3 separate regions of the Homo sapiens genome follow, and all the other regions are linked to region 3. The links come from fine-mapping of genetic effects on gene expression. A gene starts in region 3. Each other region holds a variant in brackets. All regions are shown on one strand. Distances are between the middles of the regions.

Region 1 (4,000 bases), 70 kb after region 3:
CAGAGGCTGCAGTGAGCCGAGATTGTGCCATTGCACTCCAGCCTGGGCAGCAAGAGCGAAACTCCATCTCAAAAAAAAAAAAATTAGCTGGGCATGGTGGCGCATGCCTGTAATCCTAGCTACTCAGGAGGCTGAGGCAGGAGAACTGCTTGAACCAAGGAGGCAGAGGTTGCAGTGAGCTGAGATTGTACCACTGCACTTCAGCCTGGGTGACAGAGCGAGACTCCGTCTCAAAAATAGGTAGATAGATAGATGGCAAATTAGCATACAAGCAGGTGTTCAATATCACTTGCCCTTAGGGAACTGCAAATTAAAACAATCAGATACCACTACACACCTATAAATGATCAGAATTCAAAAACTGGTAATGCCAAATGCTGGTGAGGGTGTAGAGCCATAGGAACGCTCACTCACGGCTGGTGAGAATGGAAATGGTACAACCACTTTGCAAAACAGTTTGGCAGCTAATTACTAAACTAAATGTGCACTTACATACACATACCAACAATCACGCTCCTTGATATTTTCCCAAATAAGTTGAAAACTTACGCCCACACAAAAACTTGCACGTGAATGTTTGTAGCAACTTTATTCATTACTGCCAGAACTTGGAAACAGAGATGTCCTTCAGTAGGTGAGTGGATAAACTGTCATGCATCCAGACAATGGAATATTGTGTTAAAAGAAATAAGCCATTAAGCCATGAAAAGACATGGAGGAATCTTAAATACATATTGCTCAGTGAAAGATGGTAATCTGAAAAGGCTTTATATGATTCTAACTGTATGATAAATGGCATTCTAGAGAATGCATAAATGTGGTGACAGTAAAAAGTGGCTGTCAAGGGTTTGGAAGGGGGAGAAAGGAATAGGTGGCACACAGGATTTTTAGGGCACTGAAACTAGATAACATTATGCATTTGTCAAAACCCATAGAACTGTACAACACAAATATGTAAACTGTGGAGTATAGTTAATGTATCAACATTTGGTCATCAGTTGTAACAAGTGTACCATAATGCAATATGATAACAAAAGGGGAAACTGTTTATGGGTGGGGATAGGAGGTGGGAGGAGGGCATATGGGAACTCTGTTCTATTGCCTCAGGTTTTTTTGTAAACTTGAAGATTCCTCTAAAAAATAGTCTCTTAATTTAAAAACATACAGACACACAATGAGGTACCATATCGTATGCACGAGGATATCTAAAATTTAAAAGAGGCCAGGTATGATGGCTCATGCCTGTAATCCCAGCTCTTTGTGAGGTCAAGGTGGGAGGATTGCTTGAGCCCAGGAGTTTGAGACTGCCTGGGCCACATAGGGAGACCCCTATCTCTACAAAAATAAAAAATGAAAATAAATTATCTGGTCATGATGGTACACATCTGTGGTCCCAGCTACTCAAGAGGCTGAAGTGGGAAGATGACTTGAGCCTGGGAGGTCAAGGCTGCAGTGAGCCGTGATTGTGCCGCTGCACTCCAGCCTTGGTGACAGAGTAAGACCCTTTTAAAGAAAAGATTAAAATAAAATTTAAAAGACAAGTAATAAAAGTCTTGTCCAGGACATGGAGAAATTGGAAACTTCATAGATTGCTAATGGGATTGTAAAATAAAATAATGCAGCTACTTTGGAAAACAGTTGGGCAGTTCCTTAAAAAGTTAAGCATGCCGGGCTTAGAGGTGCAAGCCTGTGGTCCCAGCTACTCTTAAAGATAAGGTGGAAGAGTCACTTGAACCCGGGAGTTTAAGGCTATAGTGTGTGAGGATCACACCTGTGAATAGCCACAATACTCCAGCCAGGGCAACATAGACTCCATATGTAAAATAAAATAAAAATCAAAGTTAAACAGATTTACCACATGACCCAAGAATTCTAGTCCTAGGTATGTACCCAAGAAAATTGAAAACATTGTGTACCCAAGAAAATTGAAAACACAAGTCCACACAAAAACTTATACACAAATGTTCGTAGCAACATTATTCATAATGGCCAGAAATTGAAATAATACAAATGGGCCAGGCGCAGTGGCTCACACCTATAATCCCAGCACTTTGGGAGGCTGAGGCGGGCGGATCACTTGAGGCCAGGGATTTGAGACCAGCCTGGGCAACATGGCGAAACCGCATCTCTAGTAAAAATACAAAAACAATTAGCTGGGCATGGTGGTGTGCACCTGTAATCCCAGCTACTAGGGAGGCTGAGGCAGGAGAATTGCTTGAACCCAGGAGGCAGAGGTGGCAGTGAGCTGAGATTGCACCACTGCACTCCAGCCTGGGTGACAGAGCAAGACTCTGTCTCAAAAATA[T/A]AATGAAATAATTTTAAAAACCCACAAATGTCCACAAATTGATGAATGGACAAACAAAATGTGACATATGCATATAATGGAATACTATTCTGCAATAAGGAACGAAGGACTGAGACGTACTGCAACATGGATGAACTGTGAAAACGTTATGTTTAGTGAAATTTATTTAAACATAAAAAAGTTTATGATTTTATTTGTCTAGTATAGTCCAACCCATGGAGACAAAGCGCATTAGTAGGTTCTAGGAGTCAAAGGAAGGAGGCACTGGGGGACTGACTGCCAATGGGTATGGGATTAAAATCTTTTGGGGTGATCAATATGTTCTAAAATTAGATAGTGGTGATGGTTTCAAAATTCTGAAAGTAATAAAAAACCATTTAATTGTATAGTTTAAGTGGGTGAGTTTGGCCAGGCGTGCTGGCTCACATCTGTAATCCCAGAGCTTTGGGAGGCCAAAGTGGGAGTATTGCTTGAGGCCAGGAGTTCAAGGCTGCAGTGAGCTTTGATCACACCACTGCACTCAGGCCTGGGCAACGCAGTGAGACCTTGTCTCTAAAAATAATAATAGTAAAGTAAATAAAAGGATGAGTTTTATGGTATTTCGAACTATATTTCAATAAAGCTGTTCAAAATAAAAAGCACTCCTCCACCTCACAGCTTTTTAGTTCCCGTGGTGGAATCAGCAGCCCTGCCAGGGAAGAATGCCTTCGCATGCTTGGCTGATTCCCCTGGGCCCCATCCTTCCTCCTCTGATGCTGGGATGCATCTAAGGCCTTCGCAAACTACATGTTTTCATATTTTGCCCAGCTTTTCCAGTTGTCCTGAGTTGTAGGGCTTCTCAGAATTCATGGTTCACCACCTGAAGCCTCCCAGACAGTCTTAAGCTCACATGTGATTTATTTAATATCTGTATTTAGATTTGTAGCTCTAGTTCAGGAGTTCTCAAAATTTTTGATATTAGGGCCCCTTTATATTCTTAAATATTATTGAAGGCCCCAAAGAGTTTTTATTTATATGGATACATATCTGTCAATAATTAGCATATTAGAAGGTAAAAATTTCAATGTTTATTAATTTACTTAGAAATAACAATAAGCCAGGCATAGTGGTGCATGCCTGTAGGCGCAGCTACTCAGGAGGCTGAGGTGGCAGGATCTTCTGAGTTCAGGTGTTTGAGACCAGCTTGGGCAACATAGCAAGATCCATCTCTAAGGAAAATTTTTAGTTGGGCATAGCCGCTCGTGGCTGTAATCCCAACACTGGGAGGACGAGGTAGGAGGAGCACTTGAGCCCAGGAGTTCAAGACCAGCCTGGACAACATAGACCTCATATGTATAAAAAAATTTTTAAGTTAGCTGGGTATGGTAGTATATGCCTGTAGTCTCAGCTACTCAGGAGGCTGAGGTAAGAGGATTGCTTGAGTTCAGGAAGTTCAGACTGCATGAGCCATCATCACACCATTTTACTCCAGCCTGGGCAACAGAGCAAGACGTTGTCTCAAAAAAAAAAAAAAAAAAGTAGCAAATTCAGCACATTAACATAATTTTTTTTTTTTTTTTTGAGACAGAGTCTCACTCTGTCACCCAGGCTGGACTGCAGTGGTGTGCTCTCGGCTCACTGTGCAAGCTCCCCTTCCCGGGCTCACGCCATTCTCCTGCCTCAGCCTCCCGAGTAGCTGGGACTACAGGTGCCCGC
Region 2 (4,000 bases), 44 kb after region 3:
GAAATTGAGAAAGTGAGAATTCCTCATGGTCCAGCTTTTATTCATATTAACAGTTGCCAAAGGTTTGATGTATATATACTTTCAGATTCTCTTCTATGCCTATATTAACACATACATGTGATATATATCTCTGAAACACACACACACACATATATATATTTGTACAAATGGGATATTGCTAGGCATACTATTCCTTAGCTTAATATGCAGTTAAACTGTACATTTTCCTGTATCATTACAAATAAATCTCCACCAACTCAACTGCTGCTCAGAATTTATTCTGTGTATCATTATTTAACCAATCCTCTCTTGGTGGATATCTTAAGTTGTTAAATTTTTTCTATTGGAGCAGTTTTTGTAGGAAATATCCACAATTACACTTTTTTTAAATTTTTTATTTATTTATTTATTTATTTTTTTTGAGACAGAGTCTCGCTCTGTCGCCCAGGCTGGAATGCAATGGCACAGTCTCAGCTCACTGCAAGCTCCGCCTCCCAGGTTCACGCCATTCTCCTGCCTCAGCCTCCCGAGTAGCTGGGACTACAGGTGTCCGCCACCACGCCCGGCTAATTTTTTTTGTACTTTTAGTAGAGACGGGGTTTCACCGTGTTAGCCAGGATGGTCTCGATCTCCTGACCTCGTGATCTGTCCACCTTGGCCTCCCAAAGTGCTGAGATTACAGGCATGAGCCACCGCGCTCTGCCACAATTACACGTTTTTATGTTCTGCATATGACTTAAATATGTCTTTTCTCCATGTCACTGCTTGTTCTTACATATAAATGCATTTTCTAGGTACTTGTTTTTGGATTGATTGGTAGAGAAACCTGTGTTACTGACATAAGCCATAGGCTGTCCCCTTCGAGCATTTGTTCATCTTCCTTTCTCTGTCTCTCTGCTCACCCTGACCCTAGCACCCTCACAAAATGGTATTCCCGGGTGGTGTTCCAGATGCCGCATCAGGAGATTGTGGACAGCCTGAAGCTATGCCTCGTGGGCTCCTTAAAAAAGTTTTATGAGGTGAGGAGAACAGAAATTCTCAGGCTTCTGGGGTTTTTTGTTTTTTTATTTTTTTTTTTGAGACAGAGTCTCACTCTTGTCGCCCAGGTTGGAGTGCAGTGGTGCGATCTCTGTTCACTGCAACCTCTGCCTCCTGGGTTCAAGCGGTTCTCCTGCCTCAGCCTTCCAAGTAGCTGGGATTACAGGCGTGCACCAGCACGTCCAGTTAATTTCTGTATTTTTAGTAGAGATGTGGTTTCACCATGTTGGCCAGGCTGGTTTCGAACTCCTGACCTCAGGTGATCTGCCTGCCTGGGCCTCCCAAAGTGTTGGGATTACAGCTGTGAGCCACCGCGCCTGGCCAAGTTTCTGGGATTTTAAGGATTACCTATGTGAACACTTTACAGGAAGTCTGATGTGGTGAGAGGGATCTCAAATCAAAGGTGAGTCTCCTAAACAGCTGCTACTGAGCAGGCAGCTCAGAGCTCCTCCTTTCAGGCTTCAGCTTGTACAGATCAGCTTAAAGAGCTAAATGCTTTCATTTGGTTTAGTAAGTAATAATTTTTTCTCAGGTTGTCAGCCTGATGTCTCTAGACATAATCTTCATGCCCTTATCGGGGAAGTTGGGGATAAGTTTCAGCAATTAAAGCAGCTTATGAGTGTACTCAGCTTTTTATAACTTATTAGGCGCTGGCTCTTTTCATTTTGGTTCAAGACAAATGCCTCCTTATAAATCACCCCTCGAACTCTAAAGAATGCTAACCATGGAGGATTGCTATAATTAAGCTGATACTGGATCTAGAACAGTGAGCAAGCAAGGTACTGATTTCTGCCTTGGCCAGTACATCAAAGGAAGCACTGATAAGTGCCTTTCATTTCTTAGGGTCAGGGTTAGACCTTAACCTTTGCATAGAGGCTAAGCAGCAAGAAATGTCGTAATTTCATATGATTGAACTCAGTCTCTAAGGCTCCACCTTGTCTCTTTATAGAATAATGTTTCCTATAGCATCCTGCAAATACTTTAATACTGTTCAGTTATTAGAGGTTATTTTTTTTTAAAGTCTGTCTCCAGCAAGGTCCATATGTTATGCTACTGAGTCACCAAGTTCTACCAGACTTTCCTTTTTGTTGTTGTTCTAATTGTTTTCCTTCGAAGTTTGATCTGTCTTCTAATACCTATCTGTGAAGACTTTTCCCTTCTTCCCTCACTGCTCCATTCTTAAGCTGCCTTATATTTGTTATTTATCCATCCCACTGGGTTGTATCCTTATTTATGCATCCCACTGGGTTGTAAATTACTTGAACACTGGTTGTGGATGGCTATGTAGCAAATTACCCTGAAACTTAGTGGCATGAAATGAGCAAGTTTGATGTTCACAATCAGGAACTGGACAAGGCACAGCCGAGGGCTCCATTTCTCCATGTGGGCCTTGTTGTATGGTCTTTTCACATGGGCTCTTTGGGCCTCCTCCTTGC[A/T]TGCTGGCTGGATTCAAAGCCTGAATGTTCCACAAGACAGAGTGCTGGTGGAAGTCATGCTGCATTTTATGCCTTAACTGTGGAAGTAATGCAGTATCACTTCTGCTGCATTCTAATTGTCCAAGGAGTCACAAAGTCCCACCCAGCTTTGAGGGGAGGGCAGTTGATTCCACCTTCTAATCCAAGGGTGGCAAGGGTCTGAAAGAACATGTGGCACCAGAGATATTGCTGTGGCTATTTTCTTTTTTTGAGACAGGGTCTCACTCTGGTTGCCCAGGCTGGAGTGCAGTGGCACAATCTCGGCTCACTGCAACCTCTGCCTCCCAGGCTCAAGCGATTCTCCTGCCTCAGCCTCCTGAATAGCTGGGATTATAGGCATGTGACACCACACCTGGCTAATTTTTGTATTTTTAGTAGAGACAGGGTTTCGGCGTCTTGGCCAGGCTGGTCTTGAACTCCTGACCTCATGATCCACGCTTCTCAGCCTCCCAAAGTGCTAGGATTACAGGTGTGAGCTGCTGCGCCCGGCTTTTTTTTTTTTTTTTTTTTTTGAGACGGAGTCTCACTCTGTAACCCAGGCTGGAGTACAGTGGCGCAATCTCAGCTTACCACAACCTCTGTCTGCTTCCCGGATTCAAGCAATTCAACTGCCTCAGCCTCCCGAGTAGCTGGGATTACCTGCATGTGCCACAAGACCCAGGTAATTTTTTTTTTTATTTTTAGTAGAGACGGGGTTTTGCCATGTTGGCCAGACTGGGCTGGTCTCGAACTCTTAATCTCAAGTGATCCGCCCGCCTCAGCCTCTCAAAGTGCTGAGATTATAGGTGTGAGCCACCATGTCTGGCCTGCTGTGGCCATTTTCTTTTCTTCTTTTTTTGAGACGGAATTTCACTCTTATTGCCCAGGCTGAAGTGCAATGGCACAATCTGGGCTCACTGCAGCCTCCGCCTCCCGGGTTCAAGCAATTCTCCTGCCTCAGCCTCCCATGTAGCTGGGATTACAGGTGCCCGCCACCACGCCTGGCTAATTTTTTTGCATTTTTAGTAGAGATGGGGTTTTGCCACGTTGGCCAGGCTGGTCTCAAACTCCTGACCTCAGGTGATCCACCCCCCTCAGCCTCTCAAAGTGCTGGGATTATAGGCGTGAGCCACCGTGCCTAGCCACTGTGGCTATTTTGTAAAAGTGCAGTCTGCTGCAAGCACAGGGACTGTCTTGATTCCTTTTCCATCTCTTACACTACTAAGCTGACACTCCTGGTGATTTACGTTGAATTTCTAGTATCACAATTCTATTCTAAGTCAATTAACAGTTTGTTTTGGTCTCTGTTTCTTTATCTGAACTATGAACTTAAGTAGTATTTATTAAATTCTGTAGAACCAGATCAAAGAAAAAATAAATTTGTTTTTAAATCTAGAATAAAACTGGCTCATCTGAATATAAATGTTCTCTGAATCAAAAGAATTTTTTTTTTTTTGAGACAGGTTCTTGCTCTGCCTCATCCTCCAGAGTAGCAGGGACTACAGGCA
Region 3 (4,354 bases):
GAATACATGGTTGGAATAGAAATATTTATGGTGACCAAGTGCCCAGGGTATTTGGAGTCATGACTGCCTAGGAAAATTCAGGTTATGTATAGTTATGGGGCCATTTTCACTCTGAATTTTAGAGACTGGCAGGGCCAGGTGGACAGAATTTGGTGTTACGACTTTTTTGAGTTAAAAAAAAAATCTGTGATTTATCTCAAAATACTATCTCTTAGTGTGATATACGTGCTCTTTTTGCCCCTTTCATTTTTAATTAACAAATAGCAATTACATATGGTTATGTGGTACAGTATGATATTCTGATATTTATTTACATTGTGGAATGATTAAACCAAATTAACATATCCATCACCTCACATACTCATCTTTTTGTGATGAGATTATGTGTGTCCTTTTTAATCAATATCCTAGGGATGGCTAATTAACAATTAAAGTACTCTGTTAGGGAATATAATCTCCAAAAGAGGTTGATTAGCTTTTGAAAGGTCCTAAATAGATGTCCACGTTTCAGAAAGCTTCAACCATTTTTATGTCCAATCAACAGCAGGACTATATGGATTTTCCTTTGGTTAAATAAGTAGTGTTAATGATGTCTGGATTAGCTAGAAATACTGTACGAAGGCCACCTACACTTGCATGGATGGACAGGATATAGAAATCTAGGAAACCCAATGTGCATACCCTTTGTAATGGTGCTCTTGGTTTAGGTTCCCAAATAGAAGACATACTCAGGAAATTATCTGAGGATTATTATTCCCTTACTTCAACTAGAAGATTTGCTGAATCCTGCCCCCAAAATATTGTTTCATGTGTATAGAATAAGTGTGTCATGCAAAGTTTGGTCGGAGTTCCTAAAAGAACAAGGAGTTGGATCTTCACGAAAGTTACAAAACAGTTTGTATAACTGTTTTTGACTGCACTTGCTACCATTAAGTATTTGCACAGGCAGGAGAATTGCTTACAACATAACATTGCAACAGCTGCAAGTTAAGAAGGTTGTGTGGTAAAGGAAGTGAAAATGTTAGATCATGGTAAACAAATACTATCTAGGAACAGTGAAGGGGCATCGTGCCAACTGGATTCCTGAGTTGAAAATCATCCTGCTCCAATAATTTTCAGACTATCCTCATTCGGGAAGGATAGGGAGGGCCCTTGTATGTGTGGATTAAAATAAGTCATGGGATATCTGAGGCCTGGAAAAAATAAGGTTAACCCTTCTCTAGTCCTATTCCATGCAGAGCCCTTGGATGTCTCTATAGCATCCGCCAAAGCCTTCAGAAGCTTTACCTCAACCACACTGTAAAACCTGGGTGTGGGAGAGGGATGCAGTTATTTGACAAAATGGTTGGGAGAGGGTCAGAAATCTTTCTTTGGGTAAAATCATTCTGTAGTTGCTGAAGTAACCACTGATAATTTAATCTGCTTCCTAGAAAGCTCTTCTTGGCTCACAGATTTAGGCATCAATAAAAATAGGCAACATTTATCGAGGGTCGTCTTCTCCTTGTGCTAAGTATTTTACATACGTTATGTCATTATGTGTGTACATTTCCATTCAACCCTATGAATGGATGTTTTTAGTTTTTATCTCTGTTTTATGTATAACGAAAGTGATGTGCAGAAATCATATGAATTAGGTGTTTGAATGCGCACTCGAGCTTACCGTTTCTTTTTCACCACCTGTATCGCTAATCCTCTTAACTGGCAGGAATGGGGCAAGTCAATTTCAACACGCGAGTCTTAGGCTAAATCTGTTTATAGGAGTTGCCCCCAGAAAGGGAGTCAGGATCTCCAAACCCTAACACATTTTAACGCTGAGGTTCACATAACTCCCAGCGCTCCTTCCGCACGAACCGCCCCTGCACAGGGAACCTGCTGGAAAGGACGAGCCTCTCTTGCAGATGGGCCAATTAGATAGCTTGCTCTTGTGAACGACAGGTCTTGTGGCCAATGGGCTCATCCCCGGAGGCCTCGAAGAGCGGAAATTGGCCCTGGAGCATGTGGGCCCCGGGGCGTGGGTTGAGCTCGGTCTTCCCCTGAGGCCGCGCGGAGCTGGGCGACTGGGGCGAGGACTCGCGCACAGGTGAGTACTGGCCCCGGTTGCGGCATGCCAGGCAGGCCAGGGTCGCTCGGGGGCGGGCAGGTTGGGTTTTTGCTCAAGCACGTGGGGTGAGCCGCCCTCCCGGGCCTCTCCCCTCCCACTTCGGGGAGCTGCTGAGGGTTGCGGGTCGGGCGGGGGCGGGAAGTCGTTATTCGAGGCCCGGCGCCGCGGCCCCAAGAAGGTGTCCAGGTTGGGGCGGCAGGGGAGGCCCTCCGGAGGCCCAAGTGGACGTCTTATTTGGCCTGAGAGAGGAGATAGAACCCCTGGCAGGGCTGTGGCTTTGGGGAAAGGTGCTTTTCTCGGGGTGGAAAGGGGATGGGACTCGCCTTCGGGGGCCTTGCTTCTGGTTAGGCCCGAGTCGCGAGGCCTCAGCGCGGAGCACGCACCCAGGGATGCGAGGGAGGCAGGCCCAGCCCGTCCTGGGTTCGCTCCCCATTGAACCTTTCGGACAGCCAAGTATCTGCTACCTGATCCCAGGGGGAAACCCACACTGGGAGAGGGCCCTCTGGGGGAGCTACCTGAATCTATAGAAGTGGTGCTGGAGGTTGAGGGAAGCGTGGACAAAGAGGAAGATTCCAGATGTCCCTTAAGGGAGGCCGTCCAGCGCTTCTGAGTATGTAGCTGTTAGCATACTGATTGCTTGGGATTCTTTGGGTGGTGTTGGGGAGGTGTGAGCAGAGTCCTGGCTCACCGAAAAGGGGTGTTAGCAGTTAAATATAGCCTTCAAGAAAGGGAGTCATATCCTGCGTTTAGAGTGTGAAAGAGGATAGTTTAGTTCAATAAATTTTGCAAGTTCCTGAACTGTCTGCACTTACGCTGTGGGTTTATGAATTGTGTGTTAATATTTTCTTTAAATGTATGATTTCTCTGTAGCTAATACTTAAGACAGCTTTTTTGTTTGTTTGTTTGTTTGTTTTGAGACGGAGTCTCGCTCCGTAGCGCAGGCTGGAGTGCAGTGGCGTGATCTCTGCTCACTGCAACCTCCGCCTCCCAGGTTCAAGCGATTCTCCTGCCTCTGCCTCCCGAGTAGCTGGGATTACAGGCGCAGGCCACCATGCCCAGCTAATTTTTGTATTTTTAGTAGAGATGAGGGTTCACCATTTTGGTCAGGCTGGTCTCGAACCCCTGACCTTGTGATCTGCCCACCTTGGCCTTCCAGAGTGCTGGGATTACAGGCGCGAGCCACCACCCCCGGCCAAGACAGCTTTTTGAAAGTTAAGAAGAGGCTTCTCCCAGCATTTGGGGAGTCTGAGGTGAGAGGATCACTTGAGGTCAGCAGTTTGAGACCAGCCTGGGCAACATGGCAAGATCCCGTCTCTACAAATTTTTTTTAAAAATTAGCTGGGTATGGTGGCAGGTGCCTGAAGTCCTAGCTACTTGGGAGGCTGAGACAAGAGGACTGCTTGAGCACAGGAGGTTGAGACTGCAGTGAGCTAAGATGCCACCACTTCACTGTAGCCTGGATGACAGAACAAGACCCTGTCTCTTAAAAAAAAAAAATTCTTTTCCGTTAAGAAATATTTTTCAGGAATCAGGGGCAAGTCAGGACAATGAGAGGAGCCCCTTAAAGAGGGAGTCTTGAAATCTGTAGGTTATAAAGTGATATATATATATATATTTTTTTTTTTGAGACAGAATCTTGTGCTGTCACCCAGGCTGGAGTGCCACGATCTTGACTCACTGCAACCTCCGCCTCCTGGGTTCAAGCAATTCTTGTGCCTCAGACTCCTGAGGAGGGGGGATTACAGGCATGCACCACCATGCCTGGCTAATTTTTGTATTTTTAGTAAAGACAGGGTTTCATCATGTTTGCCACGCTGCTCTTGAGCTCCTGATCTCAAGTGATCCACCCGCCTCGGCCTCCCAAAGTGCTGTGATTACAGGCATGGGCCACCATGCCCGACCTACAGGTTATGAAGTGATTTTGAAGAGACCTGATGGGCTTTAGATTTGGTAGGGAAGCCAGGGAGAGCCTCACCCCGGGTAACCTGGGAGAGAGAAGGGTGTTAAATGCAACCTGTGAGACTGAGCAAGTATTGTAGGCTCAAAGCAGAAAGACTGTGTACTCTGGAGACTTCTGATGGAGTTTGAAAGAAGAGAGTTTTTAAAATTTTTTTTTCTATTTTTTAATTATTTGTAGAGACAGGGTCTCGTTGTGTTCCTAAGACTGGCCTCAAACTCCTGGCCTCAATGGTCCTCCCACCTGGGCCTCCCAGAGTGCTGGGATTACAGGCATGAACCACTGTGTGTGTGTGC

Which allele goes with the higher level. Alleles are on the strand shown, and positions count from the first base shown. SD is a standard deviation of normalised expression in the study named.
For the expression in breast of the gene that starts at base 1,998 in region 3, allele A in region 1 goes with a lower level than allele T (moderate effect, 0.69 SD a copy in GTEx).
With allele A in place of T in region 2, the expression in substantia nigra of the gene that starts at base 1,998 in region 3 is higher (large effect, 1.0 SD a copy in Braineac2).

Evidence for each region. PIP is the estimated chance that this variant, and not a neighbour inherited with it, causes the effect.
Region 1: its variant is the best candidate, but not a certain one, in a credible set for the expression of PIWIL2 in breast (GTEx, PIP 0.62).
Region 2: its variant is the best candidate, but not a certain one, in a credible set for the expression of PIWIL2 in substantia nigra (Braineac2, PIP 0.68).

The regions. Positions count from the first base shown.
Region 1 is chr8:22,343,366-22,347,365 of GRCh38, forward strand. All of the region lies in intron 20 of PIWIL2 (piwi like RNA-mediated gene silencing 2), which reads left to right. Among named protein-coding and RNA genes, the nearest start is that of SLC39A14, 22 kb to the right of the region's middle. The variant T/A (reference allele first, on the strand shown) is at 2,306.
Region 2 is chr8:22,317,257-22,321,256 of GRCh38, forward strand. It overlaps PIWIL2 (piwi like RNA-mediated gene silencing 2), which reads left to right. Exons shown (of 23, transcript NM_018068.5): 20 at 914-1,019. Among named protein-coding and RNA genes, the nearest start is that of PIWIL2, 44 kb to the left of the region's middle. RefSeq lists an enhancer at 1,316-1,485 and a cis regulatory region at 1,401. The variant A/T (reference allele first, on the strand shown) is at 2,475.
Region 3 is chr8:22,273,319-22,277,672 of GRCh38, forward strand. It overlaps PIWIL2 (piwi like RNA-mediated gene silencing 2), which reads left to right and starts at 1,998. Exons shown (of 23, transcript NM_018068.5): 1 at 1,998-2,080. PIWIL2-DT (PIWIL2 divergent transcript) reads right to left here and starts at 1,844. Exons shown (of 2, transcript NR_134293.1): 1 at 1,661-1,844. RefSeq lists an enhancer at 2,278-2,923.